3 separate regions of the Homo sapiens genome follow, and regions 2 and 3 are each linked to region 1. Evidence: fine-mapped expression QTL. A gene starts in region 1. Each other region holds a variant in brackets. All regions are shown on one strand. Distances are from middle to middle. Region 1 holds the start of SLC38A6 (solute carrier family 38 member 6). Region 2 has its middle 140 kb from the start of SLC38A6. Region 3 has its middle 110 kb from the start of SLC38A6.

The links. PIP is the estimated chance that this variant, and not a neighbour inherited with it, causes the effect.
Region 2: its variant is the best candidate, but not a certain one, in a credible set for the expression of SLC38A6 in whole blood (TOPMed, PIP 0.51).
Region 3: its variant is the best candidate, but not a certain one, in a credible set for the expression of SLC38A6 in monocytes after LPS (Fairfax 2014, PIP 0.67).

Annotation. Positions count from the first base shown.
Region 1 is chr14:60,975,769-60,986,549 of GRCh38, forward strand. It overlaps SLC38A6 (solute carrier family 38 member 6), which reads left to right and starts at 5,477. Exons shown (of 16, transcript NM_153811.3): 1 at 5,477-5,614; 2 at 6,740-6,870; 3 at 8,962-9,035. The coding sequence starts at 5,510. It overlaps TRMT5 (tRNA methyltransferase 5), which reads right to left and starts at 5,311. Exons shown (of 5, transcript NM_020810.3): 1 at 5,195-5,311; 2 at 3,463-4,118; 3 at 1,746-1,870; 4 at 1-358. The coding sequence starts at 5,205. RefSeq lists a silencer at 2,003-2,297 and an enhancer at 5,201-5,580.
Region 2 is chr14:61,118,952-61,129,732 of GRCh38, forward strand. No RefSeq gene overlaps it. Among named protein-coding and RNA genes, the nearest start is that of SLC38A6, 140 kb to the left of the region's middle. RefSeq lists a silencer at 7,400-7,694. The variant C/A (reference allele first, on the strand shown) is at 5,866.
Region 3 is chr14:61,082,975-61,093,755 of GRCh38, forward strand. It overlaps a transcript of SLC38A6 not described here. Among named protein-coding and RNA genes, the nearest start is that of SLC38A6, 110 kb to the left of the region's middle. RefSeq lists enhancers at 6,051-6,552, 7,616-7,755. The variant GTATA/G (reference allele first, on the strand shown) is at 5,566.

The DNA.
Region 1 (10,781 bases):
CGTGCACAGAGGGTTTTCTTTCTTTTGACAGACCCAGCAGCTGCATTAACTCTTCTTTGACTGGTCCTTGGAGGAAGTCTTTCCCATCCAAGTTGAAGACTTTCACCTTTTGGTCCACTTTATTTAATTTACAGTTGTACAACAGCCATTTATGAGATTCAGGATTGAGATCATTGGCAAATACAGTGCAGTTTTTCTTTGCTACTGGAATGGCAAAGGGCCCAACCCCAGCAAAAACATCAAATAGGACATCCCCAGGTTTGAGAAGTTCTGTGATACGGCTGTGTTCTGTAGACAGACGAGGATTCCAATAGACTTTTGAAAAATCAAATTCATAGGTGTAGTTGTTTTCTCGAACCTGAAAAAAGGTGTTATGCTTTTTGGTTAATTTCCTTGGTCCTAAATCCTAACCATTGATATTGGATAGGTTGTGTATACACACAGGCAAACACATACACATTTAAGTTTACTACTGTAAGAGCCAAACAACAGTGCATTTAAAGGCATTTTAATTAGACTCCTGGTGTTTATGCTATTCCTAAGGCCAGTTAATATACTGCATTAGACTTATTCGTGAGAAAAAGTCATCTCTTTAAAGCCAAATGGCTCTCCATCTCAATCCTATAGGGCCATGGCCATAAAGTAGTTACCATATCACATGAGGAATTTTTCAGACAGGCCAATTAACTGGCTTAATTATACTCTTATGTCACCAGATAGACAAGGCAAGACCTACAATTTTGAAACAACACACCACCCATATCTTCATGCTGGGTAGCCAAGTTGCAGACAGTACTTCTATGCAGCAAACAAGCTTCCCTCCTTATTTAGTTTTGTGTTTGTAAAAGGGAGCCATGGTAGATGTGTCACTCAATTTTGAGGTATTTTACTATGTTTTTCGACAGCTACTTGAACTTTGCAAATTTGATGTCTATAAATTAGAGCCAGTGTATAGAATGAATCATTCCCAGATTCTCTTTCCCAAATTTGAGTTTTCATGGGTAAACTAAATATATACAGTGAAGCTAATTCTTGAACAAAAGACTTTTTAACGTTTCTTTTGGGTCTATTGTAGTAGACACCTTAAAAAACAGAAAATAAAACTTAAGTTACAGTCATGAAGTATGACCTCAGCCATCATCTTAAACTCATTAATTTATGCATGAAGAATCAAAGGCCAGAAAGTTCATAAGTTCTATAAATCTCATAGATAGATACATCTTCCATCTTCTGCTTTCCAGGACCTTAATTCCCAATTTGTATGTATATTTTTTTTCCTTCTCCCAACCATATCAGATGCTTCCGGCCAAATTATTAAGGTTACAGAGGTGGAAATGTTTCTGCAAATTTCTGCCAACTAAAAGTCTTTCTGGGTATAACCTAGAAGGTTTAAATATATCTCGAGAACTATTTTATACATACTGTTCTATAACTTGCTTTTTGTCACTTATATTGCTTTCTGGCAATTGTCCATTGTCAACCTATCGATGGACAACTTATTTTAACAAATATGGAGCTAAAAAACCTTTAATGATGGAAATATTCCATTGTATCACTATATGAGAATTTAACCAATTCTTCTGAAAAGGCTTTATCAGTGTTATTCCATCAATAGCATACATAAGTGATCACATTCTCACATACTCACCAACACTGGATGTTACAAGTATTTTAAATCTTTGTCATCTATTCTGACTCTAAACATAATATTGATATACACCTTACTTGGAGATAATAAAATATACCTTTGTCATCATGTTCTGCTCTCCAGATAGCACTTCCATTTGGAAATTTCGGTACATATTGTCAATATTATTTATTTTATTTACTGCTGAGGTGATTCCTGGATTTTTGTCAATCATAACCTGGCCTAAAAGAAAAAATGAAAATCCATAATACTGCCTATTGGTTGCAAAATAAAAGCTAACATTGTTAATATGAAACAGAAATGAGTTGTATTTCTTTTGGTTGATAAAGACTGCACCTACTGTGTGTAATGTGGCATGCAATTTAAAAAATTCAACAGATGACTAAAGTTAATGTCTGACGGTTGCTAATATGCACACACAAAATGTTGGGTACATTTTTAAAGAAAACGTTTTGAGGAGTTTGGGTCTACCTAATGTTTTTTCCATGTTTTACTAAATCTTTTCAAATGAACCAATAAACAAGGAACCAAAAAGGTAGATCACAAGGAATTGGGAAAGAATGGAAAGAGATGTAAAGGACCCTGGCAACAAATGGCCTCAGAAAACAGTAAAACATCTGCCGGTTCCACTGGCCTCAAGCCAAATGTCTGTTTTACTATGGCTTTGGAACAAATGCCCCCACTTTAGAAATATATGCCAGCAAAACAATGTTTCCAAAAAAAAAGAAACATAGATTATTTACAGTCCTATCTAAATTAAATGTTCATTTACTTCAGAGCAAAAAAAGCTACAGAACTGGCATACTCATGGCCATTTGATGAATCTATTTTTTTAGTTAGCACTTTAAAAAAGTTATAAAAATCTATATGCTATCTCATTGCATAACTTGATTTGTAAATCAGCACACAGTACCCAATTATACAATATCCTGAAATACAACCAGCATTTGTCCCATTTCTGATAATCAGATACTTGTTTTTTAATATAGTATCAATAAACGAATTAATCATTGTTCTTACCCTTTCTGCTTCATGTATCTGAACTCAACTTTTAAGGTACAGAATTTAGTTTGAAATGAGGAATGAAATTTATAAATTTTTAAAAACTATTCTGAAGGTCTATAGTAAAAGCTTTAAAATTACTACTGTATGAAAATGTTTCACTTTTAATGTATGAGTGCCTCTATGAAAGAAAGTTTATAAAATAGGAATGCCAGAGGAATGTTTGAGTTAGGGTAGGCAGTGACTCACAGGAAAGCCTAGACTTGACATTTGTACCCAGTCACAATTACAAGGATCTGCTTAAGTATTTATGTTACCACTATCCATTATTACTCCCTTCATCAATAAAAACAAAAGAAATGTGTAACAGGACAGTATGGTGCTTGACATATAGAAGAGGCTCAATTGGTTGAATCAATGAAAGCATAAGTAAACATCTTGCACTTTTGACTATAAAGTACCCAAATTTATGAAACCTAGTATTTAACATAGCCCTGAAGGCCTAACAAGTCTTGTGTACCAAAAAGATCTCTCCTCAATGTAGCTGCCAAAGCATGTGATTCAAGTTTAATCTACACTGATGTATTGTTGTACACAAAAGCCTGGACCAGTATTTGGAACTTGCTATGACTAAAGAAGATATTTCAAAATGGCCCTCAAAAGAGGGTATGTAGCTCAAGATCTAGCTTAAAGTTAACATGATAAAATGTTCTGCCTCTGTAACTTGGCATTAAAAAAAATAATTTTTAAAGCTAAAATTAACAATTTGCAAATTCCCTTCAAATACATGAATATTACTATGACACACGTACCAATTAAATGTTTGAAAGGCAGCTGATGATCTCGAAGGTTTAGGTGTGCAATATGTCCAATCCTGCTAAACCCTGAAGTTACATCTTGACCTTCAGGAAGCACAGCTCTCAAGATTTCTTCTGACTTAAAGTGTTCATATGTTAGTTCCAAATTGTATTTAGAGATCTGTGGACTGACATTAAGCTGCTCTAAAACACTGAGTTCTGCTTTCTCAAAGGAATCATGAGTAAATATTTTATAGGGATCCAACATGATTAGTCTACTTTCTTTATCTTCCGGATCTTCAATCACACGTCTTATGCCTGGGCGCTGCAATGCTGCCCTTTTTAGGGATCGCATCAATTTACTGACTATTTCTTTCCTCACTTTAAGCACTGGAATGTTGACTGTCTTTTTAAAAGCTGTTCTATCAAGTTTTGTCATGCCTCGGACATCAGAAGGTGGTGAAAACAATTCAGTCTCTCTCTCATGTGTTTCTGTTTCTGGCATGGTTGAGAATCTTTTTCTTTGACCCAATAAGAAAATACCAGGTGCTTCCAAAAGCATCTGTGTCAGGGATGTCCAAGCTACTGGAATCAACGATTTTGATTCAGTTATGCTATGGCTTTCCAGTTTCAGAAATCTTCCTGAGAATCCAAATGGCCTCCATAAGATCCTTAAAAAAAAAAAAAAAAAATTCACACACGACAGCTTTTGAGAATAAAAATCTAAATTCTACTATCTCAAATAACGGGCTAAATGCTGACAAATAAAACGTTTAGTGATGTGTGGGAAGTATACTATCTTTTCCAGACTAGGATGACTTCTTCAGGAAGTCGTATTAGTGGTAGATAATAGTGGTATATATTAAATTTACACCTTCAACCCATCTGCTCCCAGTTCAGAGGGCTTAGTGATCCATTAGCCATACTCAATGATCCTCTTCACCCACAATTTTCTAGATAATACATTTGGGATTGGAAGACTGAAGTATGAGTTAAATGGTCATCTGTAAATGAAATAGTCATTATACATGACCATTACTAGTGGTGATATTTATTAGGATAGTCTCATGGGTGCTTATTGTGTCAGATACTGCGCTAAATGCTTTATGTACATTATGAATCTTGGGAGGTGTGCAGTATTGCACCCTCATTTTGTAAATAAGTAAACTAAAGCTCAGACGTAAGGTAACCCACCCAAAGTCTCCCAGCTGATAAGTGGCTAAACATGGATTAAAACCTAGTTTTGACTGACTTCGGTGCTTGTGTTCTTAATATATTGCTCTGTTGTTTGTTTTCGATGCTTTACTGCCACATGTCCTGCCTTTAACTAGAGGCTTCTGTATTTTGAGGACGAGAGCTTTGCTGATTGTTATATGCATAGTATCAGTTATTCACTGTCTTCTAAAATACCAAAGAATTTACTTGTAAGGGGAAAGGGCCCTGTCCCAGAATCCTGTAAAGCAACGAAGTCTAACTTCACCGTCAGAGATCAAATTGGTTCTAGCAGCTGACCAGCTGGGTGACCCTGGATAAATTACTATAAGTCTCGGTTTTCCCACCAGTAAAATGTGGCGAAAGGCTTTTGAAACATTCCTTACTATCCAGAACCTCGAAACTAAGCTCAGCACCTAGGCGGGTGGGTGACCTCGCGATGTTTCTGTGCCCAGGCAGCACATGGCAGAGAGCAGCCCTGGGCGGGCTGGTACCTCCCCTGGACCATTAGCCCCTAACGCGGCCGCCACCTCACCAAAGCACCATTCCAATTCCCCACGTCGCTCTGCAGCTGGATCCGCGAGCCGACCCCTCACCTCCCGCTCCGGTACCGATCGGATGTGGGTCGCGGGTGGATGGGCGGGTCTTCTATGACATCATCACTGTTCGCCGCGAAGAGGGCGCGCGTCATCAGATCAAGTCGACTCGCTCCTCTCCTTCCAGGCCCTGGTGAAGTACGGAATGCCGGAAGGGCCGGGCTCAAAGCTCCGCCTCTGGCGCGACCGACGACTGGAGCGCAGGGCAGGGGTAGAGGCTCGTAGATGGAACTGGTAGTCAGCTGGAGAGCAGCATGGAGGCGTCCTGGGGGAGCTTCAACGCTGAGCGGGGCTGGTATGTCTCTGTCCAGCAGCCTGAAGAAGCGGAGGCCGAAGAGTTGAGTCCGTTGCTAAGCAACGTAAGTGGGCTGTGTTCGCTTCCCCGCGCTGACGCCCTCCGGCTTCCCTCAAGTGCCTGCCAAATAAGACCCAGAAAAGGAGGACCGCACCGGGACAGGGGAGATGCTGGAGCCTGAACCCTGGGGGATGGGGTCTGAAGGCAGCCGCCGAGATTCAGATGAGATTGGCGCAGTTATGAACGTGATAGCAGCCTAGCATACTCTAGAAAGAAAAGATGAAAAGCGTCGGGTGGAAGAGATGCAGCGTTGAGTGGAAGCTGCGAACATGATGGGATGAGCGGCCCTAGGATTATGTACTCACTGCTGTTAGTTAGTATTTTTGTCACCTTATTTTCTCCACCAGTCTCGTGAGGTCTTTGCAAGAGTCACAGGATTTTCCTCTTCCGACTTAGTCATGGGGGGAGGGAAAATAATAAACATTTTAATACAGAAATTCTTAGCGGTAGAATGGAAGTGGCTTGGTAGTAAGTGCATAGCACGTTCCTGACCCTAAAGCCTGTGCAGTGGGCACTCCGCTTTTTAACTCGAGTCCTAGACACTGTTCCCAGGACTTTGTTCCCGGTGCTGTTTGTGGGGAGGGGGATGTTTTCAGGGATACTGCCAGAACAACGTGAATTGCTTCTGTTTATAATATTGTCATTGCAAGATATTCCTGACCATCCTTCCAGTTTGGTAGAACTAATTCATTAGATATATAAGTAGAGATTAGTTGTGCAGTCCTAGTAATTGAGGAGAAACAACTGCCCACAGCAGTCCCAGGTTGACTCAGCAATTCTTTAGTAATCACATGAGCTGAGGCCTTATCCCTCCTCTCTCTCCCCACTCCATTCCCATCCTATCTTCATCTCTTGCAGTCACAAGGTTAGTCATGGCCCTTCCTGAACTCTGCCTGTCTTGTGTACTGGTGGAAATCATTTTCCTAAGAAACCCTAGATTCCTGGAGCTGCAGTAGTGGGAGGTGGGAAGGAAAGGAAAGGAAATTAGTGTTGGTTAAGCAACGAGTGTGTCATACAAACCCTGGTGGTTTGCAGCTTTTTTCCATAATCTTTCATTTATGGAATTTCTTTACGAAATTTTAACTTCACCGTCCAAACATTTAACACTACTAAATTTGTGTGCTTACAGGAACTTCACAGACAGCGATCCCCAGGTGTTTCATTTGGTTTATCAGTGTTTAATTTGATGAATGCCATCATGGGAAGTGGCATCCTTGGCTTAGCTTATGTTTTGGCTAATACCGGTGTCTTTGGATTTAGGTGAGTCTTCATATTTTAGCATCAAATTTTTTTTTCCATTTTGATAATATACGGAGAAGTAGAGAGATAGATTCCAGAAGCTGCTATTATACAATTTCTAGTTAGTTATTTCTGGGGTTTTAGCATTTTTCTTGTTATTCTTGTTGCTAGTGTGTACCTTGGAGGGCTACTACATAGCTTCTTAAATACACAGAAGTGTGACTAGTTTTTAAAAATGGGAACTTGATCCACATTTCATTTATAATGAAATATGACACTTAAGAGTGGCATATTCATTGTATCTCCTTGGCCAAAGTGAATCAAAGCCATGCAGATTAACTTCCAAATAGCAATTTTGTGAGTGCAAATACAACACATAATCTTTTCATTCCTCGCTGTCTCTTTGTATTGTTAAGTAGTCTTATTTCACTTTCAGAGGCCAGACATGTGTTTTGTGCCTGTTCTTTTTTATGTTTCAGGACTTAGCTTGTAGGCCAGTTTGCCCAAAATAGAAGACAATCCTGGATATTCTGTGCTTTCATAGTACTTTGTATATTCATTCTGTTATTATAATTGTTACAATGATATGTTTGGAAATTAATGTTCCCACTAAACTGAAATCCTTTACAACTGGAGGTCAAGGCAGGCGGATCACTGGAACCCACGAGTTTGAGACCAACCTGGGCAAGATGGTGAAACCCCATCTCTGCCCAAAATACAAAAATTAGCCTGGTATGGTGGAGTGCGCCTGTAGTCCTAGCTACTTGGGAGGACTGCTTGAGCCTGAGAGGTTGAGGCTGCAGTGAGCCATGATTGGGCTACTGCACTCTAGCCTGGGTGACAGAGTGAGATCCTGTCTAAAAAATTTAAAAAATAGAAAAATCCTTTATAACTGGACCTTATTCTTAGCATCTAGCACCACATGGCTAATAGAATGAATTAACAAATTGGCTTTGTCAGTAGAAGCAGATCTATTTACTAGGAAATTTAAAATGCCTAGGGAGTCTCTTTTATGTTTATTTCCTGCTTTTATTCCAAATTTTTTGATAAGCAAAGCAACTTTTAAGTAACCCAACTTGCTTTTATTATGGAATGTACTCACAAACTTTCATTATTTTTAAAATTAAAAACTATATGTGACACCTTAAGCAAGACATAGTCAGAGGACTTTTTTTTTGATTCTCTTTGAAAAATCATAATTTATGCACCAGGGTCTTACATGCAGATATATACTGCTGAATGTGTGCTCACCCAGTCATAGCAACCATCATTTTTGGTGATGCTAAAGTGTTATTTTGTGAAGTTCCTGATGTCAGTTTAATGACATTTGTACTTTTACCTCTCAATTTTATTTATTAACAAGTATTAACTGGACCACAGAGAGAAAATTTCTTCAATGACTGGGGCAGTTCACTGGGGATAGCTGTATAGAAGCTTGTCCTGCTGGTGTCTTCCTAAAAATGAATAGGAAATTATCTAAGTTTTTTCTTTCACACTGTTGGTGAGAGGACCTCAATCATTACATTGTTTGCACATTTTTCAAATTGCATCATTAGAGGTGTGTTAACTACATTATTTTAATTTAGTTTGGTTTGGAGAGTGTGTGCGTTTAATAGATGCTAGAAAATACAGCCTAAATAAATCTTAAGTACACCTTAATAAGATGAAGGTATGATAAGGAGGTCAATATCACTGGAAGTAGAGGGAGGAAGGGAAAAAGAGAAGACAATGAGATTGCATAAGTAAAACTTCTGTTTAGACTTAAAATAAGAAGAAAACCAGTCATAAAAAGGAAATATTACAAGATTATTTAATGGCTGATTCAGCAGTCAGCAGACAAGACTGCAAAATGAGGAAGTTTGCTTGTATTTTTAAAAAAGTTTGGTTTTTATTTTTTTTTATTTTAAAATCAGTATATTTTCATTTAAATAAAATTGGTAAATACAAAAAAGTAGAAAAGTATCTTCTTAATTTCCTTAATGAACATAATTCTGCTACTCAGAGATAGTTCCTGTGAATATTTGACTGTTAAGCAATTTGTTTTTGTAATGAGACACCATACAAAAGACAAACTTTTGGGAGGTTTTGACCAGGTGTTCTTTTATGTTTTAGCTTCTTGCTGCTGACAGTTGCTCTCCTGGCTTCTTACTCAGTCCATCTTCTGCTTAGTATGTGTATTCAGACAGGTGAGTAAAAATGTTATGCTGCTTCATTTAATAAAGGAGTCTCTTGAGTTTGTATCTACATATAGAACTGGATGTCTCAAATCTAATATCCAGTGAGCATACATTTTTATTAGATAGGGTGATCGGAATGGAGAATTTGAAAAACCAGGATATACAGACCCAATACTGTGGGGGAATATCCAAGCACAGGATGGGAGGAGGTAATTAGCATTTTTACCTGCTTTCCTCCACAACACAACCTAATTTTCTGGAGTAGAGTAGATCATGGGAGGGTCTAAAAGGTGTTCAAAGGATCCAAACCTTATGCTTATGGAGAAATCATTTTCTCAAGGAGAGAACACCTTCTCAGAGCTACTGTTGCCTTCCCTGCCCCCATCTGCCTGCTAGTCAGAGGTAGGGATGGCAGAATTAGGATTGTAGGAAGTAAGGTCACAAAGCTTTAATTTATTTAGACACATTTTGTATTTTTAATTGCAAGTCTAGAATAGGGTAGTTTTTTCCTAAGAGAAATAAGTATGTGCAGTTAATTCAATATATTTGTGTATATACTTTTTCCCATTTGGAATTTTATTATGCAATTCAGTCATGTATTGAATAAGTTCTTTTAGGATCCAGTAAATAAAAGTATATGAATTATAGAAGTGCTTTTCTAAGATTTTCCTTTTGTCATTAACAAATATTCTATGTTCATCAGTCCTGGTCTTTTTATCTGTCTAGTCTCTTTTGTCTTTGGATTAGGTCAGCTTTGATGCCAAAATCATGGGTTTAATTCTTATATGGATGAGTTCGTTTTGCTTTATCTGGCCTTGTGATGTTCAGATTTTAAGAAGAAAAGTAGATACACAAAATAGATAAAAATGGATTTCTTAATTCATTTAGTGTTTCTATAAAAGAATACCTGAGGCTGCATAATTTATAAATAAAAGAGGTTTATTTTGCTCATAGTTCTACAGGCTCTGCAAGAAGCATGGCCCTTCTTATGAGGGGCTTTTCTGCTCCATCTGCATCTAGTAAGGGGCTCAGGCTGCTTTCATTCATTGTGGAAGGTGAAGGGGAGCTAGGATATGCAGAGATCACATGGCAAGAGAGGAAGCGAGAGAGGAGGGGCATGCCAGGTTCTTTTTAACAACCAGCTCTCATGAAACTAATAAAAGTGAAAACTCACTCATTACCCCAAGGAAGGCACCAAGCCATTCATGAGGGATCTGGCCCCAGGGCCCAAACACCTCCCCTTTGGCCCTACCTCCAACACTGGGGATCTGATTTCAACATGAGATTTGGAGGGGTCTGACAAACCAAACTATATCAGTGAGACTATTCTGTGCTGAAACAGGTGAGTGAAGCCCAGTGATGTTTCTTAAGAATTTTAAGACTCTTCAGAATAATTCTGAAGCCACTGCTCTAGTTTGTTTTCCTAAAACCTGTCCATCATCAGAAATACTCATAGATCTTTTTATACACAGAGAGCTCTAAGCCTCAGGGATTCTAATTTCAAAAATCTGAGGTGAGACTCAAGAATATGTTTTTAACAAGGCAAAACCAGTTTAGGATCCATAGTTTATAGCTCTAACTTGTACCAGTGCTTTGGCCAGCCAGTGCCAGATATGTTTTTAACAAGTCCTCCAAGTGATTCTTATGCAAATCTAGTTTAGGATTCATAGTTTATAGCCACAACTTCTAACAGTGCTTTGGCCATCCAGTGCACGCCTTTGCTCTCAAGGGGCTTGGGTGAATGTGCAGACAGAT
Region 2 (10,781 bases), 140 kb after region 1:
CTGCCTAAGGCCGTAAGATTAGAAGTTAGGATAATACATGTTACACTGTTAACTTTTAGCAAACTTTACTTTTGTTGAAAACCTTGTAAGTTTGGGATTTCAATTATCCTTTGCTGTTAATAAGCCCTTGTTTAGTCCAAATTAACTTAGAATTGGTATAGATGGTTCCTTCCTGGTTCTATAAGTACTTTAAGGCCTGGCTGGGTGGAAACAGCTGGCACTTTGAGCAGACCAATTATTAGGCAAATTTCCTAACTCTGCTTTTACAAGAGTTTCCCTATCAATTACTAAATACCTATTGTGTCTTTTTCCCTCAGTCACCCGGGAGGAACCATCTATCATCCAGTCCTGAAGGGAGTTCTTCCTCCTAGGTCTAGTCAGACCTTTGGTAATTAATTAAGATTGAGATCCCTTATTAGGAAACATGCTGGGTTAAGGGAATTATCAGTGGTTAATGTTAAATCATCTTTTTCTAACAGAAAAGCCCCATACTTGTAGATTTTTGAGTTAGTAAGCCACCCATTTTTTTTTTTTTTTTTTTTTTTGACTTAGGATAGTTCTGAACTGGTGAGGTGTGCTCACAATGAGGTTTCCTCTAAAAGTTATTTTTCTACTTTCTTCTGTTAGCAAAGCTGTTGCCGCTACAGATTGAATGTATTTAGGCCATCCAAGGGGTACTGGATTAAGGATTTTTACAGGAAGGCTACGGATTGTCAGTGGCCTCAGTGCTTTCGGGCTACACCCTTGTTTACACTGACAACAAGGTAGTATTGGAGTGTTGTAGGGTCTCAGAGAAGACCTTTAATTATCAATTAAAGTTTCTAAATTTACCTTGGCTTTTAAACGAATAGGGTAAACTGTTGTTGTTGTTTTAACTATTTGTATATCTCTTTCTTTCTTTCTGTCTTTGACTTTCTGTCTCTCTCTCTGACTTTCCTGTTGTCTTTGTCTCTTCCTCTCTCTCTGCCTCTCTTTCTCTCTCTGTCTTTCACTCCTTCTTTGTCTCTCTGTCTCTTGTTCTCTCTCTCTTTTTCTCTCTCTTTGCCTCTTTGCCTCTCTCTCTCTTTCCTCTCTTGTCTACTCTGGGTGGTCTAGGGGTGTGTGTGTCCTGTGGAGGCTCAGGTGCTGTGGGCTCAGGAGTGGGGAGTCTCTCTTCTCGGTAAGGGGGGGCACCACTGGTGCCACTGCCTGCCATGCATCCTGTGATGTTGGGTCAGACAGAACCTTAGGAGCTGACTTCTCTCAGCGGGTGGAACGAGATCCCCCTCTTGGCTATCTGTCCCTTTGCCACTAACACTGCTGCTGCCTGTCCTCTCAACCACTGTGGGGGGTCTAAAACTCACTGCAACCAAGTATCTATGTATGGAAACTGATCTGGGTGTCCTGATTTACCAGTTACTTTGTGCCATACCTTTGAAACTAGGGACTTGTCTAGACTTCCTTCTGATGGCCATCCCACCTCTAATGCCGGCCAATCTATCTCACACAAAGCCTTAAGCTTTCCAGGTGTCATAGCAATTCCATAGTCCCCATTGGATCCTTTCTTGAAATTCTTTAACACAGTTCCTAACGGAGTAGGCTTATTCTGTGTTTTACCCATTTTCCTCTCTCAGCAGACAAAACAACACTCTTACCACAAAGAGGGAAGGGAAAAGGGGCAAAAAGTCACTCACTCACCAACCAATTCACACCAGATCAAAATTAAATCTAAAACCAAAGGACGGATAAGGAGTTACTCATTCATCAAGCAATTTGAGCCGAGTCAGAACCGAAATCAAAGCCAAAACAGTTCAAATCCAAAAGTCAGAACTGAAATCAAAACCAAAACATTTCAAATCCAGTCAAAATCAAAACCAAAACCAAAGTGCTGATAACGGCACACCGTGGGTGATCAGGCCATGCTTCCACTCAGATGGAGTGGGCAAGTTCCAAGACCGGTCTTACCATGTTCCAGATGTCAGGACTCCAAGCACGGATTCCTTCCCAGTGTTCAGCCGCTGTGTTAATCCTCCATGGGGGTCTGCCGCGCACTGCTCTGGCAAAGCATTCCACCTGGGCGATGGCCTACTGGGAGTGCTCTCAGGATCCGTGTCACAGGGCTGGAGTCCCCCACAGGGATGCTCCACAGGACAGGCCTAAGCTGCCTAAGGGGCTGCCTTGACCATCCGTTAATCACCTCACTTCCCGGTCAGGGAACTAAGAAATGTAGCGTGAACTAAGAAATGTAGCAGGACCAGTCACAGACAAAACCTCTCGGATACCAGTTTTAGGAAGGAAGAGGCTTTAATTAGCTGGGAGCATTGGTAGACTCATATCTCAAGAACCAAGCTCCCTGAAGTCAAGATTCCTGTCCCTTTTAAGGGCTTACAACTCTAAGGGGTCCACATGAAAGGGTCGTGATACATTGTGCAAGTGGGGACTACGTGACGGGGGCTGTCTGCACCGGTGGTCAGAACAGAACAGAACCGAACAGGGAGTTACACAATGTTTCCTCATACAATGTCTGGAATCTATATATAACATAAGCGATTAGGTCAGGGGTTGATCTTTAACTACCAGGCCTGGGGTGTGGTGCCGGGTTGTTTGACTATTGAATTTCACTTCTGCCTTTTCTTTAACTCCTACTTTTTCTTTTCTTTGAGGGAGAAATTAGGCAAATAGGCAAAAGAAAATATGAGAGGCGGTTTCCTTCCTTAGAAGGGCTGAGCAGGGATTACGAAATCTCAAATGCCAAGATCTTATGTGCAAACCATGCCCAATGCTGTAAACATTATTAAGCCCTACCAAAGGCTATTTACTTGAATCCTACCAAGAAACATTAAGCATTACGAAACTTCTTTTAAAATATTGTTTTGCATTATAAAATAGAATACAACATAAAAATATTTATGTTAAATAATTATAATAAACTATGCAAAATGAGTAATAAGGAACAATATAGCATAAAGTCATGTATATAATGTTTACAATATTTTTATAAAGTAAATAAGAGGTTCTTGTCTGTTCCTCTAATATTCTTTATTATCACTGAGTTTTGTTTTTCTTCTGGAAAGAGGGGGCAGGCAGAGGGAGATGGCTGTGGGGACCTCTGCCAAGCCTGAGTTGGGCCACAGTCAAAAAACGTTTGAGGGCATCATTCAGAAAAATAAGCCTGCAAATAATTTTTCTCAATTTCCTGTCTTTTTCCTGAAAGATGGTTTGAAGATGAATGGCTGAGTAGAAAACACTTTCAGATCCCCACATAGGCAACGGCAGAAAAGCTCCAAGTGTGATATTACAAATATGTATTGTCATCGAAGACAGAAATATTTGCCTTGTCCACCCAAAAGCACAATGATCGTATGGGTTGATTGTATTTTCTTCTCTATGTATTATGTGCAGAATTTCCCTTCAACAAAAGAAGGGAGGAAAGAAAACTAACCCTGCATTGTAGGCTTCTGCTCTATTTTAGGAGAGGAAAGATACTCAAAGACAAAAACCAGCAAGAAATGGCATTTGACTTGCAAGCCTTTAGGAGATGTGCATAAACAGAGAAGCTCAAAGGGAGGCAGAGAAACCAGGATGCCATCGTTGATTATGTCCTTCCAGCAACTGCAACCGTGCCTCAATTTGCAGGGAAATACATTCCTCTTCATGGACCCTGTTCTGGGACCCATAGCATGCTCCAGGCTGCAGCCCAGACAGGAAGGTGTCCAATATGTCTTTGAGTTCCATCTTGGGGATCTCATGTGATCTCTGGTGTGTTAGTGAGTGGGCAGGGCCCCTGGATCCCAGCACTGACCTCAGTTACATGAAGAGTCTGAGTCCATGGCAGGATCTGGGCCCACAGTCTTCTCACCAACCCAGAGGCAGAAACAGACTCTACAAGCAACATGGAATGGCAGTGCTTTGTATCTACATTTATTAGTTTTTAAAAAATTATAAAATCTGGCTGGGTACGGTGGCTCATGGCTGTAATCCCAGTGCTTTGGGTGGCCAAGGTGGGAGGTTCCCTTGAGCCCAGGAGTTAGAGACCAGCCTGGGCAACATGGCAAAACCCTGTCTCGACATGGCTAAATAAAAAAATTAGCCAGGCATGCTGGTACACACCTGTAGTCCCATCTACTTGGGAGGCTGAGGTGGGAGGATCACCTAAGCTCAAGAGTCCAAGGTTACAGTGAGCTATGATTGTGTCACTGCACTCCAGCCTGGGCAACAGAGTGAAACTTTGACTCTTAAAAAAAAATTATAAAATCGGTGTTTGTTTTACAAGAATTTGAAATTCTAAGCTATATAAAAAGGAAAATAAATATCACCATAATCCCACTGCCAGGGAGTGCCACGGGGTACTGGCACTGTTCCTCCAGCCCTGTATCTGTATATGCCTATATGCCCATTTATACCCATGTTGGATATCAGTAAGGATTCCCCAGCCTCTCACACTGTTGGAGAGGCTCAACCCTGTTCCATGCCCTCTAGAAGTCTAAAGTCCTCCCCAAGCCTTCTGGAAATTCCATGGGGTCTTCAGTCCTCAGGATCACCCCTGCCCCCAAGCATGGATTTCTATAGCTAATTTCCTGGTGTTGTTCCGTTTTTCATGAACACAGATGGAGAGTACGTCTTACCCTGGGTTTCTACCCTAAATCTGCACTCACACAGATCAATTATTGATGGGGTGGACTTCACTGAAAATTTTAGGAGGGGGTGGAGTTGGAGTTAGTTTGAAACCACAGTAGCAGCCAAAACACCAGGCATCTTTGTGTCCTCCAGGCAGCTACCAGGCAGAGTATCTGTGACTTCTTCACCCTGGGAGGCCTCAGACTCACACCTCCAGGCTCCTGGCTTCCCCCTTGGTTCCATGCCCCTCCCCCAGCCCTCCCCACCAGCGGCCCCCAAAGCATCTCTTCTGTTTCTTTGCCCCCCTCCCCTATGGTCTTCCTTCTAATGCAAGGAAGTTGCTTATAAAGGACTTTGTTTAAATAAGGACCGTTCTTATAGCAACTGTTACAATAACAAAAATCTTGAGATCATACTCTACATACATTCTTTATTCTGCCTTTTTAAATTGAGCGTTACACTTTTAGCACTTTCCCATATCATTAAATATTTAGCAGCACTGGATTTCATCAAAAAGATGCACCATCATTCATTTCTCCATTCCACTATTTTTGGATATTCTTTGCTTTGGGGAAATTTACAAAGCAGAAATTATTAGCTCGAGGAGTGTGAATATTTCTAAGGTCCCATACTAATTGCCAAATTGTCCTCCAGAAAGGTTATGTCAATTTGCACACTCTGAAGCTCTAAATGAGAGTGTTGAGTGACTTTATTCTTTAAACAGTTTGCTAACTTGACATTGTCTGTGGAAGAGACTATTTTAGGTCAGTAAAATATCTGGTCAGAGTCACAGCCACAGAGAGCCCAGGGTGTGAGGGAGCTTTTGGCCTTGGGGGACTCCAGGGCCCTGGGGCAGTTGATAAACCTCCCAGGACCTCCGGTGCTTCTCCGTAGCCTGGCTCCCACTGGCTCCAGTGCTCAAAGCAAATTCTTCCCCCAAGCCCTGCAACTTTCCCTGGGGTAGCTCTCATTCCACCTCTATAACCAGGAAGGGCCCCTTGGGTAGGCACCCCTCAGCAAATACCCCTAGCTTGTCCTCAGCAGATGTGGTTGGCGGTGGGCAAACTGGCCTTCTCCCCTGCTCAGTAGGGAACTGGACTTCTGGACCCACCCAGACTCATTTCTCTCTATGTCATTGTGTCAGAGGTGTTTGAACCAGAGGAACTCCATCTTAAATAGGAGCTGGGTAAAATGAGGCTGAGACCTCCTGGGCTGCATTCCCAGATGGTTAAGGCATTCTAAGTCACAGGATGAGATAGGAGGTCAGCA[C/A]ATAAAGACCCTGCCATAAAGACCCTGCTGATAAAACAGGTTGTAGTAAAGAAGCCAGCTAAACCCCACCAAAACCAAGATGGCCAAGAGAGTGATCTCTGGTCATCCTCACTGCTACACTCCCACCAGTGCTATGACAGTTTACCAATGCCATGGCAACATCAGGAAGTTACCCTATATGGTCTAAAAAGGGGAGGCATGAATAATCCACCCCTTGTTTAGCATATTATCAAGAAAGAACCATAAAAATGGGCAACCAGCAGCCCTCAGGACTGCTCTGTCTATGGAGTAGCCATTCTTTCGTTCCTTTACTTTCTTAATAAACTTGCTTTCACTTTACAGACTTGCCCTGATTCTTTCTTGCGTGAGATCCAAGAACCCTCTCTTGGGATCTGGATTGGGACCGCTTTCCTATAACAGTTGGAGTTTGGAAGAGATGAACAGCCTCCATTTCCCCATCCCCCCATCCCTCCAGCAGAGAATATAGGGTCACTTTCCCCCTTCCTAAAGGCTACAGAGGCTCACAGCAGCAGAGCCTCGAGTACTACCCCCCTTTCCTTTTCTGAAATGAGAGATGTCCAGGGAATCGGGGACATCTTTCCCTCTTCTCTCTGTTAGGATGCTAGTGAGTTCTGCTTTTCCCACTTTGTGAGCAAAGCACACATGTGCACAGCTAACAAGCCAGATGATTTCTAAATAAACTAAAAATACTGCCTTATCTCAGAGGCCTGTGCTGAAGGAGCTTGTTTAGAGTATCGGATGAACATTTACAAATAGAAAATCCTTCCGAGTTACCTGCTGTTACACCCCATGGCTTCCTCCCCTGGAACACAGCAAAGGACCTGGGGTGACTGGAGCAAGTGGCCATCAGGGTTTGGTGATACTGCGTCTGATTTGTCCTCTCCTCTAGACTCGAGACAACTCCAGGGCAGATCCTGGAGCCTCAGCCCCAGTCCAGGGTCTGGTACATAGAAGGCGCCCCACAAGGGTTGGTGGTTGGTGGGAACACAGCAAAGTGGGAATTCCTTGGCTGGTACTGTGCAGGTGATTGAAGCCAGCTGCCTAGGGTTAAGATATCCCATTTCCCAGTCTGGGTAGGAGAAACCCAGGTACATGTTCACACATGTCCACTCTGTTTGCCTCTCCCTCCCATCCGGAGTCCTTCCACAGTGTCCCCTCCTTGGGACATCTGCTTCCCCAGCATATGCCTCTGGGGCACTTTGCTGCAGAATGGAAGAAGATCAAGTGCTCTCCTGTTCCAGGTCAGGCACTTTGGATTTAACCTTGAGGCAGAGGCTCAGCTGCCCTGACAACCCACAGCTCATTTCTACAGCAACACCTCCTGCAAAGGTAGCCCAGCACGTCCTTGGCCACCAGCTTCCTGCGGTGATAAAAATAGCTGAGGCCCCGCAGCTGCTGAATGATGAATTCTGGAAGGAGATGATTGATTCTCACAGCTGAGTCTCGGGGTCAGCGAGTGTTGTGCAAGTGGAGACGCCGGGGTGAAGGATGGGGGTTCTGCTATAGATAGAACTGTTGACAGAGTGATCCTGGGCTTCTCCCCACCTGAGGGGAACATAAACTGAGCTAATTAAAAGGAACTGCAAAGGGCTGTTGGAAATGATGCAGACGCGTGCATCCTTTGCTTTCAGACCATCTTTGACCTTTTTGGAATGTGCAGTCATTTCCCCTCCTTCCTTCTGGCACAAGATTCAAAGTGGGGAGAAAGTGTTCATTTCCAGGGAAGGCAATGGGGTGGTAAAGTGAGAGGAGTGCCTGCTTTCCCTAAAACAATGGTGAGGAACTGTCAGGGCTTATGAAACACCACAGGGACACCAATGTCAGGCAGCACCTAACAGCCTGGAATTAAAATCTGCTCCCCGCTTGCTCAGGCTGGAGGAGTGCTCCTGCTGGCCTTGCCAGGGGACTAGCCTGTGATCTACCATGGCTGCACTCTGATTAATCACAGTGATCTAAGGTTAACTGTGCACATGAAGCTCCTGACCAGCACCAGAGTAGCTTGTAAGCCAGTGCCCATGTCATAAAGCCATTGCAATTGCACTGTGCACAAGTAAACAGCTGGGCCTGTGACATTGCACAGATGGACTGGATCTGGGCAATTCATAGATATCACCATATGCATTTACTTTATAGTACATATTTTCTGGGCAATCTATCCCCCAGTGTTCTATAAAGTAATAAGAATAAGGTTTCAGAGAAAGGGAGAGAGAGAAAAGTCACTGGACAATGGGGAAATTAAGAAGCAAATGAGAAAGGATATGTTTTCAGATGAGATTATTAAAAAGATGATGAGTTGATGAGGTGGCCAGACGAAGAGAAGATAATCCAGATGGCTATTGCTCCCAAAGAGAAGGCTCTGTGTTGTAATCAGAGCAGAGAAAAAGGGTGAAGGAGACCTACTGGCTTTCATGAAAGAGACAAAGGGGAGCCCCTGCAGGGGAGTCTGGGTGAGGACCACAGGCTTGAAAGCAAAGCAGACCCTTCCTTTGTCTTTATTGGAATCCTATGAAAGGCAAGTCCTGAATGCCTTTACGCCTTTCTCTCCATCCTTTTCTCATTATCTGCTCCTCTGAATTACATCTTGCCAGCTCCAAACCCTTCCCCAGGTAGCTCCCATCTCTCCCACCCGCTAAGGTATCCTGGAGTCACCTCTGCCTCCATCAGTGCCTTTGGGGATGCAGCAAGTGGAACTGAATCCACATACTCCGGTTATCCCTGACTGTAGAGTTCATACAGAAGCTATCTGTATGCCTCCTCATTACGTAAAATTTAGAGTCAATTCAAAGGAGGGTAACAGGACAATGAGGGGTCTGGAAATGGAGTCAGATCAGCTTAGGTAAGGTAGGGGGCTGATACTATAATTAGTCTGGAAAAGAGAAGATTTCAGATAACCCTGCAGGTTGTCTCCAGGTCTGTCCCTCATATTTGTGGGAGATAAATGGAGACCTCTTATCTTCCAAACCCCTACTCTGTCCCACTGCAAGAGGAGTTGCACACATGTACATATGTGGACAACCCAGGCTGCACATCCAAGCTGCATTTCCACACCCCACCAGAAAACTGCCACTTGGCCACTGCTGGAAGCTGGGGAGTTCACATCAGAAATGTGGGCCATCTTTCAGAGGACACACCCGGGAAGAAGCTACAGGCTGGGGTCATTGGACTGGGCACCCCCAGGCTTGTTACCTGGAGCAAGTTCTAGAAGAAGGCCTTGCTGGATCGAGGTGGGCCCGTCTCCATGGTCCCACTAACTTGTCTTGCTCATGGAAAGTGGTATGACCCAGGAAGGGCTAGAATGGAGCCCCCAAAATGTGGGGCCTATGGAAGAGACCCCTTGCCAGGATCTAAGTCTGCTGCTGAGTATGACCAACTCAAGCTGTCCAAACTGGATGCCAAATCTGCTCCTTCCTCTACATTCTGCCTCATGAAAGTTTTCACTGTCTCCTGCAGGAGAACCCTGACAGCCTGGCCTTAACCCCTCACTTCTCCTCTTTCTCCATCTCCAATGCAGCATTCAGTCCTGCTGACTCCAACTCCTTCAGGCCTCTAGAATCTTCCCTCTTTCCCAGCCCCTGGCTACGCCCAGTGACAGTTCTCACTTGTGCCAGGACTAATTGCCTGGCCTCCTGAGTTGAACTCTTCTCCTCCAGTCTCCACACTGCCAGTCCAGCAATCTCTCCCTGAGGTAAATATGACCTTACCACCCCCTTTCCTACCTAAAGCTCTTCAGCGGTGCTCCCTATGCCAGTGGGATCAAGCCCAAGCTCCTGAGCCCAGCACACAAATCCCTCCGTAGCCTGACTGCTGCCCCTGGCCTCTGACTCTCAAACCTTGTCAAATATTCTTACAGTTAATGCAACAAACATACCATTTCCTGTTTCTTTGCTCACACTGCTCCCTCTCCCTGAAGGGCCTTTTCTCTCCTGCCTGCTTGGTTGATGTGAACTCACTTTCTCCTGCATGGAAACCTTTCCAATATCCCCTACTCTTCCTTTCCTCCCCAGGTAAAATTGATTATCTGTAAGCTGAACTGAAGTCTACATCATAGCAAATAAAATAAAATATTTTCTACGATTTAATTGTTCACAAATCTGTTTGGTTTTTTGTTTTTTTTTTTTTCCACCAGACCATAGTCTCTCTAAGGTAGGGGCCACATTGTTCTTGGCAACCCTGTGCCTGACACCGAAACACGTGGTGAACTGAAATGGAAAGTGTGTATCTGATCAATGCTGGTTGCCACACATCTAATCCTATGTTGATGAGCACATGTCATTTTTTGTTCTTAGCAGCTATTATATATGGTAACACTTTCTAAACAATGGACAGAAACTGATCACAAGTTCCAGGCAGGCATGCAAGACAGGGGGAGTCCATAAAAGGTGCTCAGCCTTGCTGAGAACCCCTGGTATCACCAGCAGCTGGAAAAGCACCCAGAGTCTGCAGCAGTTCCAAGCCTGTGGACTTTGTGTCTCAGGTACCAGGGTTATCTCAGGATGAAAGTCAGGCCAGTTCCTCCAGCCACTTGGCTCTGCATCCCCTTCTCCTACAGGAGGGGCCAGCAGGGACTTCTGGTTTACCTTTGGAAGGGAGGGAGAGGGGATAGGCCAGGCAGGTATGAAACCTACTCAGGTATTCAGGGCCCAATAGGCAGCTTGTCTACTTGTGACTCATCGAATGGGCAAGGATGCACACAGGATGCGACGCAGCCCTGCCCTGGAAGGGCTCATACTCAGTGTGGAGGCCAGGGCAGTAAACCAATGAGGTGAATATGAAAGACCTGCCAAGGGAGAGGCAAATGCCAAAGGATGAGTGCACCCGGGCAGAGACTTCTACCCACCTCCTTCCCAAGACCATGTGCTCCCCTCCCCTCACACAGGGGTCCCTGTCCCCCTTGT
Region 3 (10,781 bases), 110 kb after region 1:
TTGAAAAAACCAGGCAATCAAATGTGCCTCTCATAAATCACCATCACTTCAGAGCAGAACTTAAGAGTTTGGTTTGCAAGCCACACCAAATAGTTTGAGCTTGGCCCTCTACCATTTCCTCCTGCTCTGAGCCCAGAGGTTCACCTAGTGGACTGTAGCAATGGATTCCCTTGCCCCTGGCTTCCTGTTGGGTTCAGCCAGAGAGCAGCACCAGTGGGAGCCTACAGAGGGAGGAAAGTGAGGTCAAGGTGTCTGCTGCCTCCTCCCTGCCTGCCAGGCCACTGTGGGTAGACTACACCTCAGGTGGCCCTCCCCATGTGTAGCCATGCTTGCCAGGTTCTGGGTTCTGGAAACCTCCACCTCCTCTTGCCCCTTCAGTCATAGGGTGGTAGCCCCCTTCATTGCTATTAGCTGTTATGCACTCAATTGTGTTCCAACCCCAAATTCGTAGGTTGAGGCCCCAATCCCCAGGACCTCAGAATGCAACTGTATTTGGAGATAGGGTCTTTAAAGAAGTAATTAAATTAAAATGAGGCCATTAAGCCCTAATTCAATGTGACTGGTGTTCTTGTAAGAAAAGGAAGAGATACCATGGAGATGTGCACCCAGAGGAAAGGCCACGCAAGGACACAGCAAGAAGGCAACTGTTTACAAGCCAAGGGAAGAGGCCTCAGGAGAACCAAACGTGTCCACACCTTGATCTTGCACTTCCCAACCTCCAGAACTGTGAGCAAATAAATGATGTTGTTTAATCACCCAGTTTGTGGTATTTTGTTGTGGCAGTTCTAGCAAACTAATACAGTGGTACTTACTATTCCATGGGGATTTCCCTAAATGTTGCTTATTACAGTGTGTAAGTCCTTCTGGTAAGCTTTCCTTTTGGGAAGTCATCTGTTTCTTGTTGGGACCCTGATGGATATCCAGGCTTAGATGCCAACAGGAGGTTTTAGTGACAAAGGCAAGAAAATCTGTCACTGGAAGTGTCTCCCTGCTACCGGTGTCCCTCCCTATCATGTGAACCCACCTGGGTACCCTAGTGCTACTCCAGGGTATTTCCTTTTCTTAGAAGGTGAGTGACTTTGGACTGATCATTCCCTGTGAGCTTCAGTTTTCCTCTTCGTAAAGCATAGGTAACAAAAGCTGCCTTTTTGGGGTATTTTGAGGCAACATGTTGGATGCAGATATGAATGGACTGCGATAACCCAGTAAGGAAACAAGGTTGCTCTTCTATAGCAGTATTTGTAAACAATTTCATTGATACATACGCACAAAGCATTGAAATCTTTGAAGGCAAGAAAATGGTGATGTTTACTAGGGAAGGCAGCTCTGAGTCTAGCATAGGGGAGACTGTGCGATTTGCCCAGCAACTTTCTATGCCCTCCTCCCAAGTCCAGGAAACCTTGAAAACCACAGTGCAGCAGAGACAGAGACCCGTGTACCAACCTATTCTCAGTCAGGTTTTCATTAGCTCTTCATAAACAACCAGTCAATCAATTTCAACTTTTACTTCACAGTCTCCTGCTGTAGAGGCCCCATACATACAACCGGTGAATGGAGCATCTCTTTCCCTTCTTCCTTTTCGTTTGGGAATGAAGTCAAATCTGGAGGCCAGAGCAGCTCAGACACCTAAATAGGTACACAGTATGCAGTAAGATGAGATTCTGTTTCTGGCTCCTCATTCCTATTTCCAATAAATGAAGCTTCTCAACCATGTTATTTTCACCTGCCCAAGCTAAAACACAATCTTCACTGTCCCCATAGCTCCAAAGAGGGAAATCCTGACATAACATGGGGATGCTGCTAGAGTCTTTGCCCTCTCTGCAAGCTAGACTCGCTACTGGCCCTTCCCAGAGTGGGCCAAGAGACCAGGCTTATTCCTCAGTTGGACATCTGACCTTTCACAAAATAGAGTTCTCCCCTGGGAGGATGATGCCTCCAGGGCAATAGGAACACTTTTTTGTTAGCTTATTACTATCTCTATCCAATTCTACACCACAAGGCATTCTTGTGGGTGTGAAAAGCTATTGAGGAATGAAATGGCCCTGTGGGCTAGACAGGTGAAAAGAGAATAAAATCTCAGCATGTGAAGGTCTAGGAAGAGTGTCACTTAAACTTTTAAAAAAAAGCCAGACAAACTGCAAGTTTACTACTTTTTTTGGAGAGCTGAGGTCACAGGGCAGCCAATTAGCCTAAAAATCTAAGGACTGGAGGAGGCCTATGAAGAAGCATGGGACACAAGCCCTTGCTTACCTGGAGCAGATGTAGCCAACAGAAGAACTCAGCAGGAGTAGGTAAAGAATTGGTGGCGAATGAGTGAGGACTGGTGAGAGTATGGAGACCCTGGGGAATGCATATGTAGAGGGAGTTTGCACCTTCTTGGAGACTTTTCTCCATGGACTCCACCAGGCACTGTATCCCACCAGAAAAGACTGGCCAAAGTCCTGAGAAAGAATCCCTCACAGTGCAGGTATGGGGGAAAGGGAAAATAGCCACTGCAAAGGGGCATGAACCCCACCCTTTCTCCTTTCTAGAAAAAAAGCCTTAATCTACAGGAGAAAGGGAAAAATACTGTTTCCTTTAGTCTACTGGCAAAACTTAGGGAAGAACAGAACAAAATACCTCTCTGTCCCAAGGAAGGGGCAGGAATACAGAAACAAGAACTAAGAATGTATTGCCAATAAATGTACTTGAGAAGAAATGTTAAAGAAGTTCTTCAGGTAGGAGAAATGTGAAACAAGATAGAAATGCGTAACTAAAGACACAAAAATATGAAGAGCGCTGGAAATTGATTAAATGAAGGTAAACTAAGATACATGTAAAATGTTTAAATGATCCTAAAAGATAAATGACTGTCAAGAGTAAACATAGTAGCAATGTATTATGTGTGTATAGGATAGGTAAAAGTAAAATGTATCGTAACAATGATACAAAGGTTGGGAGGGAGGAATTGAGGAGAAATTATTTTAAGATCCTTACATTATGAATGAAGCAGTATATTATTTGAAGGTAAACTCTGATCAATTAAAGATGTATTGTGTAAATGCTAGGACAACAACTAAAAAATTTCTCAACTATAAATCAAATAATGGAGATAAAATGCAATCATAAAAAAGTGTTCATAAGAGTAGAAGTCAATGAAATTGAAAAACAGAAAAACAATAAAGTCAATAAAACCAAAACCTATTTCTTATAAAATATCAATAAAATTGATAAGCCTTTAGCCAGACTGACAAAAAATAGAGGAGATACAAATTACCAATATCAGGAATGAAAGAGGGAAACTACTACAGATCCCATAGACAATAACAAGATAATAAGGGAATGCTATAAACAACTCTATGACCATACATTGGACAACACAGATGAATGAATTAATTTCTTAAAAGATACAAATGATCAAAACTCACCCCAGAAGAAATATACAATTTTAATAGTGATATATATTAAAGAAATTGAATTGTACTTATAAGCCTCTGAAATATTCAACAGTTAACAAACAAGAATAGGTCTAGATATTTCAATGGAAAATTCTACCAGACATTTAAAGAGGAACTATCACTAATTATATACGATATATTCTAGAAAATAAAAGAGGGGGTAACATCTCAATTCATTTTATGAAGCCAGCATTACCCTGATATCAAGGCAGATAAAGACAGTTTCGAAACCTATAGACCAGTATCTCTCATGAGCATTGATGCAGAAATACTCAACAAAATATTAGAAATTATGAAAAGAAGAATACAACATGAACAAATGGGTTATGCTGGGAAAGCAAGTTTGATTTTTTAAATTAATTTTTAAATAATAAAATAATTATTCCATTATATTAACAGCGTAAAGAAGAAAAGCTGCATGATTATATTAATTTATGCAGAAAAGGCATTTGACAAAAGTCAGCATTCATTCATGATAGTTATTCTCAGCAAAATAGGAATTGGAAATTTCCTCAAGCTGATAAAGGGCATCTAAAAAAATGAAAACAAAAAACAACCCTACAGCTAATATTATACCTAATGCTGAAAGACTGAATGTTTTCTCCTAATATTAGGAGATAAGAATATCCTCTCATACCACTCCTGTTCAACATTTTACTGAAAGGCCTAGCCAGTGCAATAAGGCAATAAAAAGAAATATAGAACATACAGATTGGAAATGAAAAAAATGAAATAGTCCCTACTCACTGACAATAGGATTGTTTATGTAAAAAAAAAAAAAAATCCCAAACCATCACCAAAAAACCCGACCTAATTAATATGTGAATTCTTAATCATGACATGTTATGAATGTCCAGTTTTCCATGTGTGTGTGTTTGTGTGTGTGTTTGTGTTTGTGTGTGTATTTATGGAGTTATCATTCTTGCTTTCTGACTATCCAGCATTCAAACATTATCAGTATTGGAGGAGAATCTCAAAATATATGTCTTTACCAGCAAGCTAAAGGGACCAGATAGATATTTCTTCTCTCTATTTCATGGGAGGTATAACTATATGACTGAGTCTTGACCGATCAGGTGCTCCCATGCTGGGCTCAAATTTCAAGGAAGTAATGAAATTATACAGGTGGCTGTTGGAGATTTCTCATGAGGACAGCTGAATCAGGAGTCCCTCAATGCAGAGGTTTGTGTCCGGGGATGGTGGGATTTTGTTTATAACACTACCAGGCTGGACCATGATATGAGCTGGCTGTGTTCTTGGTTGCCTCACCACCCTTTGTTCCTGCCCTGTTGCCGACCCTAGTTCACCAGCCTTATTGTTGAGTCTATAAGCTACCTTCTAATAAGGCTATTTTCTACCTGATATCCAGAGTTTATTCCTTCTGTTGTTATCAACAATGTGTGTGTGTGTGTGCATGCGCGCATGTGTGTGTGTGTGTATGTATTAAAAAATGGGAATGGCATTATACTGCTTATATTGTCCTGTTACTTTATTACTTAAACATATATACTGTCAACATTTTTCCATGTCCATGATGTTGCTCTATTTAATCATTTTAATTATTGCCTGGCATTAACTTATAGGGATTTATTGTAATCTGTTTAACCAATCTCCCATGACTGGACATTTAGGTTGCTTCTAACATTTATTTATAATAAACAACACTGCTATGCATATCTATACATATAAATCTTTTGGATTTTAACTAATTATTTCCTTAAAGTTCTAGATGTAGAATTGCTATATCAAAGGGTAGGTACGTTTTTCAGGTTTTTGATTCATACTGCCAAATTTCTTAACCTCTCCCTCAAAAAACTTGTGACAATTTATACTACCATCAGTCATATGCCTTTATGACAATGTTGATTTCCAGGCATACTACCAACTTAGATTATTATCTTTGTGAAATTTTTGAGTTATTACTTATGTTCAGTGACTTTGTAAATATTTGTTAGCTGTTTGTGATTATTGCTTTGTGAGTGACTGCTATTGTCTTTTGTTCATAATTCTTTTGAGGGAAAGGAACATACTTTTTATTTAATTTATAAGAGCTCATAATTTTATTTATATTTATATATATAAGTATATATATATATATGTGTGTATATATATATATGTGTGTGTGTAT[GTATA/G]TATATATATATATATATATATATATATATGTGTGTGTGTGTGTGTATATATATATAATTTTTTTTTTGAGATGGAGTCTCTGTCTGTCACCCAGGCTGGAGTGCAGTGGCATGATCTCAGCTCATTGCAACCTCCACCTCCCAGGTTCAAATGATTCTCCTTTTATATTAAGGCATCTATCTGTCTAACATCTGTGGATCTATACATCATATATATTAAGGTATAATGGCCATGTATATTGCTATTTTCCCCCAATTTTTATTTGTGTTTTTGCTTTGTTTATTCTATTCTGAATTTTTTCCCCATTTGTATATAGTCTATTAAACAATGCTTTATAGTTTCTGTCTTTGGTTGATACTTCAAAATAACTTTCCCGTCCCAAAATGGTAACAGTATTTACATTTTTTACTGGTACTCTTATGTGTTTTTTTTTAATAAAATAATCATATAGAACTAATTTTGTTTTAAGGTACGAGGTACTAGCTAACATTTTCTTCAGAGTTACTAAATTCTTAAGTATGTTTGAATTTGTGAACTCTGTATTTCTGAACTTTTCTTAATGTCTCCTTAATCTATGCTAGGGCTAAATTACTCAATTAATTAAACAATTTCAAGATTTCAGAAGTTTTAATATTTAATGAGAAGTCTTCAGCCTTGGGGTAGAATGTTGTTGCTTGTTACTTAGTGCTGGGGAGTCAGGGGTGCGCTTGATCCTAGTACACTCTCAGGCTTTGGCAGGCCCTGTATGCCTGGATCTTAGGAGTAAGGCTTTCTCAGAAATCCTGCCCCTCCTCCTCCTCCTCCTGTGGCAGCTGAACCCTGCCTTGTGTCATGTGCAGGAGAGAATGTCTGGATCTGGGGCTCAGGACTGTTTCTTGCCCGTTCCCCAGGGATCAAGGGTGTTTTGGCTTTCCCCTTCCCCAAGCTGCAGTAGGTCTTCACCTGTGCCCTGACTGCAACAGGCTGTACTGTCCCTCCCCAGTGGCTTAGGTGGGAGGAGGGTGTGGCTGTAGCCTTATGCCTTTCCTTCAGCAATGTTGCCCCTCTTTCCTGGGCCTGCACTGTGCAGGGAGGCTTCTTTGCTCTCCCACCCTGCCTTCAGTCCTTTCTCAATCAGTAGGTGGAAGGGAGTGGAGAAGAGCCTGCAAGTGGGCACCAATTCCTCTTGTGTCTGCAGCCCCCAGGGGTGCTACACTCATGCTAGTCTGCTTCTGGCCTTTAGTAATTTGTTAAAAGCTTTAGATGAATTCTTTTTATGTTTTTGTATGGCACCCAGTGTTTCTTCCCATACTCAGCCACATCTCTTCTTGGGGACGCAGCCTTTCCTTAGATTTCAGGCTTTTGGGTTCCGTGTGATCTCAGCTTTCTGGTGGACTCAAGAAAAGGTATGGGTTTTTGGTCATCTGACTTTATTGTTGTTGTTAGGGTGGGAGAGACACTATTTTAAGCTTTCTTTATAGTAAGCAGGAGGGGAACTCCTGTGTTTTCATAGCTAATCAAGCATGGACCCTGCCCTTATTCTCTTTTTAAAAATTTTCTTGGCTATTCTCACATATCTGTTCTCTTAAATATACTTTAGAATCATTTGCTCAAGTACCTCAAACCCAAACACCTCCAAAAGAATTCCTTTTGGATTGACATGGTATCAAAATATGTAAACTGACTTCAGTCCCAGATGTTGTCGAAACTTCATTCCCAAGATCTGAATAGAGCAGTCAGAGCGGATTGTGATTGAAAGACCACCTCCAAGGCCAGCCTGCCTCTAAATCCCACCTGTTTTGTTTTGGTGTCTTGAAATTCCAGCATTAGAGTGCAGAAAAATAGTTCTAGGACCTTAGAGGATGAAAATGTATGCAGTTTGTGTTGGAAGGACCAGCATAATAACTAATGTGCAACCATCACTGCACTTACAAATTAAGGTCACAGATCTAGACAAAGTATTGTGTGAATTAAGTGAGTCAGTGAGTGAGTGAGTATGGAGAGGGACTCTGTTAAGAACAGGGGAGCTAGAGGGGAAATGACTGGATCTGGAACTGAGAGCACCCGAGTAGCTGAGAATGCGGACTCTAAATCTTCTGGGGACAAGAGGAGAGGAGCAAAAGCCCCACAGCCACCTCTGTGGTTGTCACACTTCAATCTGGCAGCTAGAGAAAAGCCCGAACCAGGCCAGGTAAGGCTCCCCTCAAGGACTATGTAGATTGTGTGCTACAGGCAAAAAAGGGGAAAACCCTCCAAGAGGATCCAGCAGTGATCACAGCTATTGATTTGTACTCCCACGGCCCTTGCGGCCATGCATCTCTTAAAATCAAATGAAACAACCATCAACAATTGTGGTAAGAATTTTCCAGTAGGAGAAATAGAGAAAGGAAAAAAAATTCTGAGAAAACAAAACAAAACCCTTCTTGATGTTTTCCACAGACTGCTTTAGAAAGAGAAAGACTGATGCAATCCAATCAAGGACAGTGATCCTCGGTTGACCCAGGATATTTCACAGACCCAGAATGCAGAAGGCACAGACGCCCACAAGCAGGCCTCAGTTTTGACTTCTTAAATGCAACCATTTTTTGTAAATTAATATTGAATTTTCAACCAACTCCAGCACCTCATTAAGGAGGGGCCTGTTCTTTGCCAAACTCTTCCAAGGGAACCTGCTGGGTTTGAGTGTAGGTGTCAGCAAACATTTCCCAGTATGTTCTAATGGGGAAATATTTATTTTGTAACACTCCTTCCTAACCGAAAATACAATTATGTGACATGTTTTATATGACCAAGGGGATTTGGGCTAAGATTTTGTATCCATAATGTGCCCTAATATTGAGAAATATCATTTTTAAAGTATTCTCTTTGGCATTGACAGGGGGCTACATTCTGGAAAAATAGCACTTCATGGGAATTTCCCTTTAGCCCTGAGAAAAAATAGTTTGGGAACACATAACAGTATATTTGGTTTGGGATGTTAAATCCTGCAGGGTCTCTGAAAGAGGCAAATGGGTGTGAGAAAGAATTAGTTACTGCAAGTTTATTTCATAATGGCCTATAAAAAATATACGTGTTCCATTTCTAAAGCTGCTATGCCCTTACTATAGCTATAGCTATTTTTTAAAACAAGAAAGACTTTCCACAAGTCATTTTCTACTTTGGGTGGGATAACATTTAGAGCAAGGTATAAAGGACCTTTGCCAGAGTAATTACCATTTAAGGCAAAGGTCTCCAAGATTTTACTTGGAGCTGAAGATCTTGGCGCAGCCCTGGCTCTGTGGAACACCACACACATCCAGTGACCATGGGAAAGCTGGCTCCCTGCTGGGTAGTGCTGCAGCATTAGTACAAGTCTCATGCTCTGAAGGGTGAAATGTGATGATCTGCTAAGTGAAGGCTCTGTCAGGAGAAGCCAGAGGAGTGGTAACAGCTCACCAAACCAAAATCCATGAAGTCCCAGCCCTTTTTCATCGTCACCATTTTTGCATATAGAACATGTCCCTATGGGGACATCCAGGGAGTGGGTGCCAGGACTCAGTGTGCCCAGCCCAAGGCCAAAGAGAGTTTATTAGCAGAAGGATCACTTACATGATTTGGAACCACAGGAGAGAGAGATGTGTGGTGGCTGAAAGCAGAACTTGGGCTAATGTTTATAAGAGAGACCAGCCAAGAAGCCTATGCATTAATTAGTGTTCTGCTGGTTGTTCTGTTAGGAGGCATCATTCATCACTTAAAATAAGACCTTTTATTTATTTATTTATTATACTTTAAGTTCTAGAGTACATGTGCACAATGTGCAGGTTTGTTACATATGTATACATGTGCCATGTTGGTGTGCTGCACCCATTAACTCATCATTTACATTAGGTATATCTCCTAATGCTATCCCTCCCCCCACCCCCCACCCAAAGACAGGCCCCAGTGTGTGCTGTTCCCCATCCTGTGTCCAAGTGTTGTCATTGTTCACCTCTCACGTATGAGTGAGAACATGCGGTGTTTGGTTTTCTGTCCTTGCAATAGTTTGCTCAGAATGATGGTTTCCAGCTTCATCCATGTCCCTACAAAGGACATGAACTCATCCTTTTTTATGGCTGCATAGTATTCCATGGTGTATATGTGCCACATTTTCTTAATCCAGTATATCACTGATGGACATTTGGGTTGGTTCCAAGTCTTTGCTATTGTGAATAGTGCCTCAATAAACATATGTGTGCATGTGTCTTTATATCAGCATGATTTATATTCCTTTGGGTATATACCCAGTAATGGGATGGCTGGGTCAAATGGTATTTCTAGTTCTAGATCCTTGAGGAATCGCCACACTGCCTTCCACAATGGTTGAACTAGTTTACAGTCCCACCAACAGTGTAAAAGTGTTCCTATTTCTCCACATCCTCTCCAGCACCTGTTGTTTCCTGACTTTTTAATGATCGCCATTCTAACTGGTGTGAGATGGTATCTCATGGTGGTTTTGATTTGCATTTCTCTGATGGCCAGTGATGATGAGCATTTTTTCATGTCTGTTGGCTGCATAAATGTCTTCTTTTGAGAAGTGTCTGTTCATATCCTTTGCCCACTTTTTGATGGGGTTGTTTGATTTTTTCTTGTAAATTTGTTTAAGTTCTTTGTAGATTCTGGATATTAGCCCTTTGTCAGATGGGTAGATTGTAAAAATTTTCTCCCATTCTGTAGGTTGCCTGTTCACTCTGATGGTAGTTTCTTTTGCTGTGCAGAAGCTCTTTAGTTTCATTAGATCCCATTTGTCAATTTTGGCTTTGGTTGCCATTGCTTTTGGTGTTTTAGTCATGAAGTCCTTGCCCATGCCTATGTCCTGAATGGTATTGCCTAGGTTTTCTTCTATGGTTTTTATGGTTTTAGGTCTAACATTCAAGTCTTTAATCCATCTTGAATTAATTTTAGTATAAGGTGTAAGGAATGGATCCAGTTTCAGCTTTCTACATGTGGCTAGCCAGTTTTCCTAGCACCATTTATTAAATAGGGTATCCTTTCCCCATTTCTTGTTTTTCTCAGGTTTGTCAAAGATCAGATGGTTGTAGATGTGTGGTATTATTTCTGAGGGCTCTGTTCTGTTCCATTCATCTATATCTGTTTTGGTACCAGTAACGTGCTGTTTTGGTTACTGTAGCCTCGTAGTATAGTTTGAAGTCAGGTAGTGTGATGCCTCCAGCTTTGTTCTTTTGGCTTAGGATTGTCTTGGCAATGTGGGCTCTT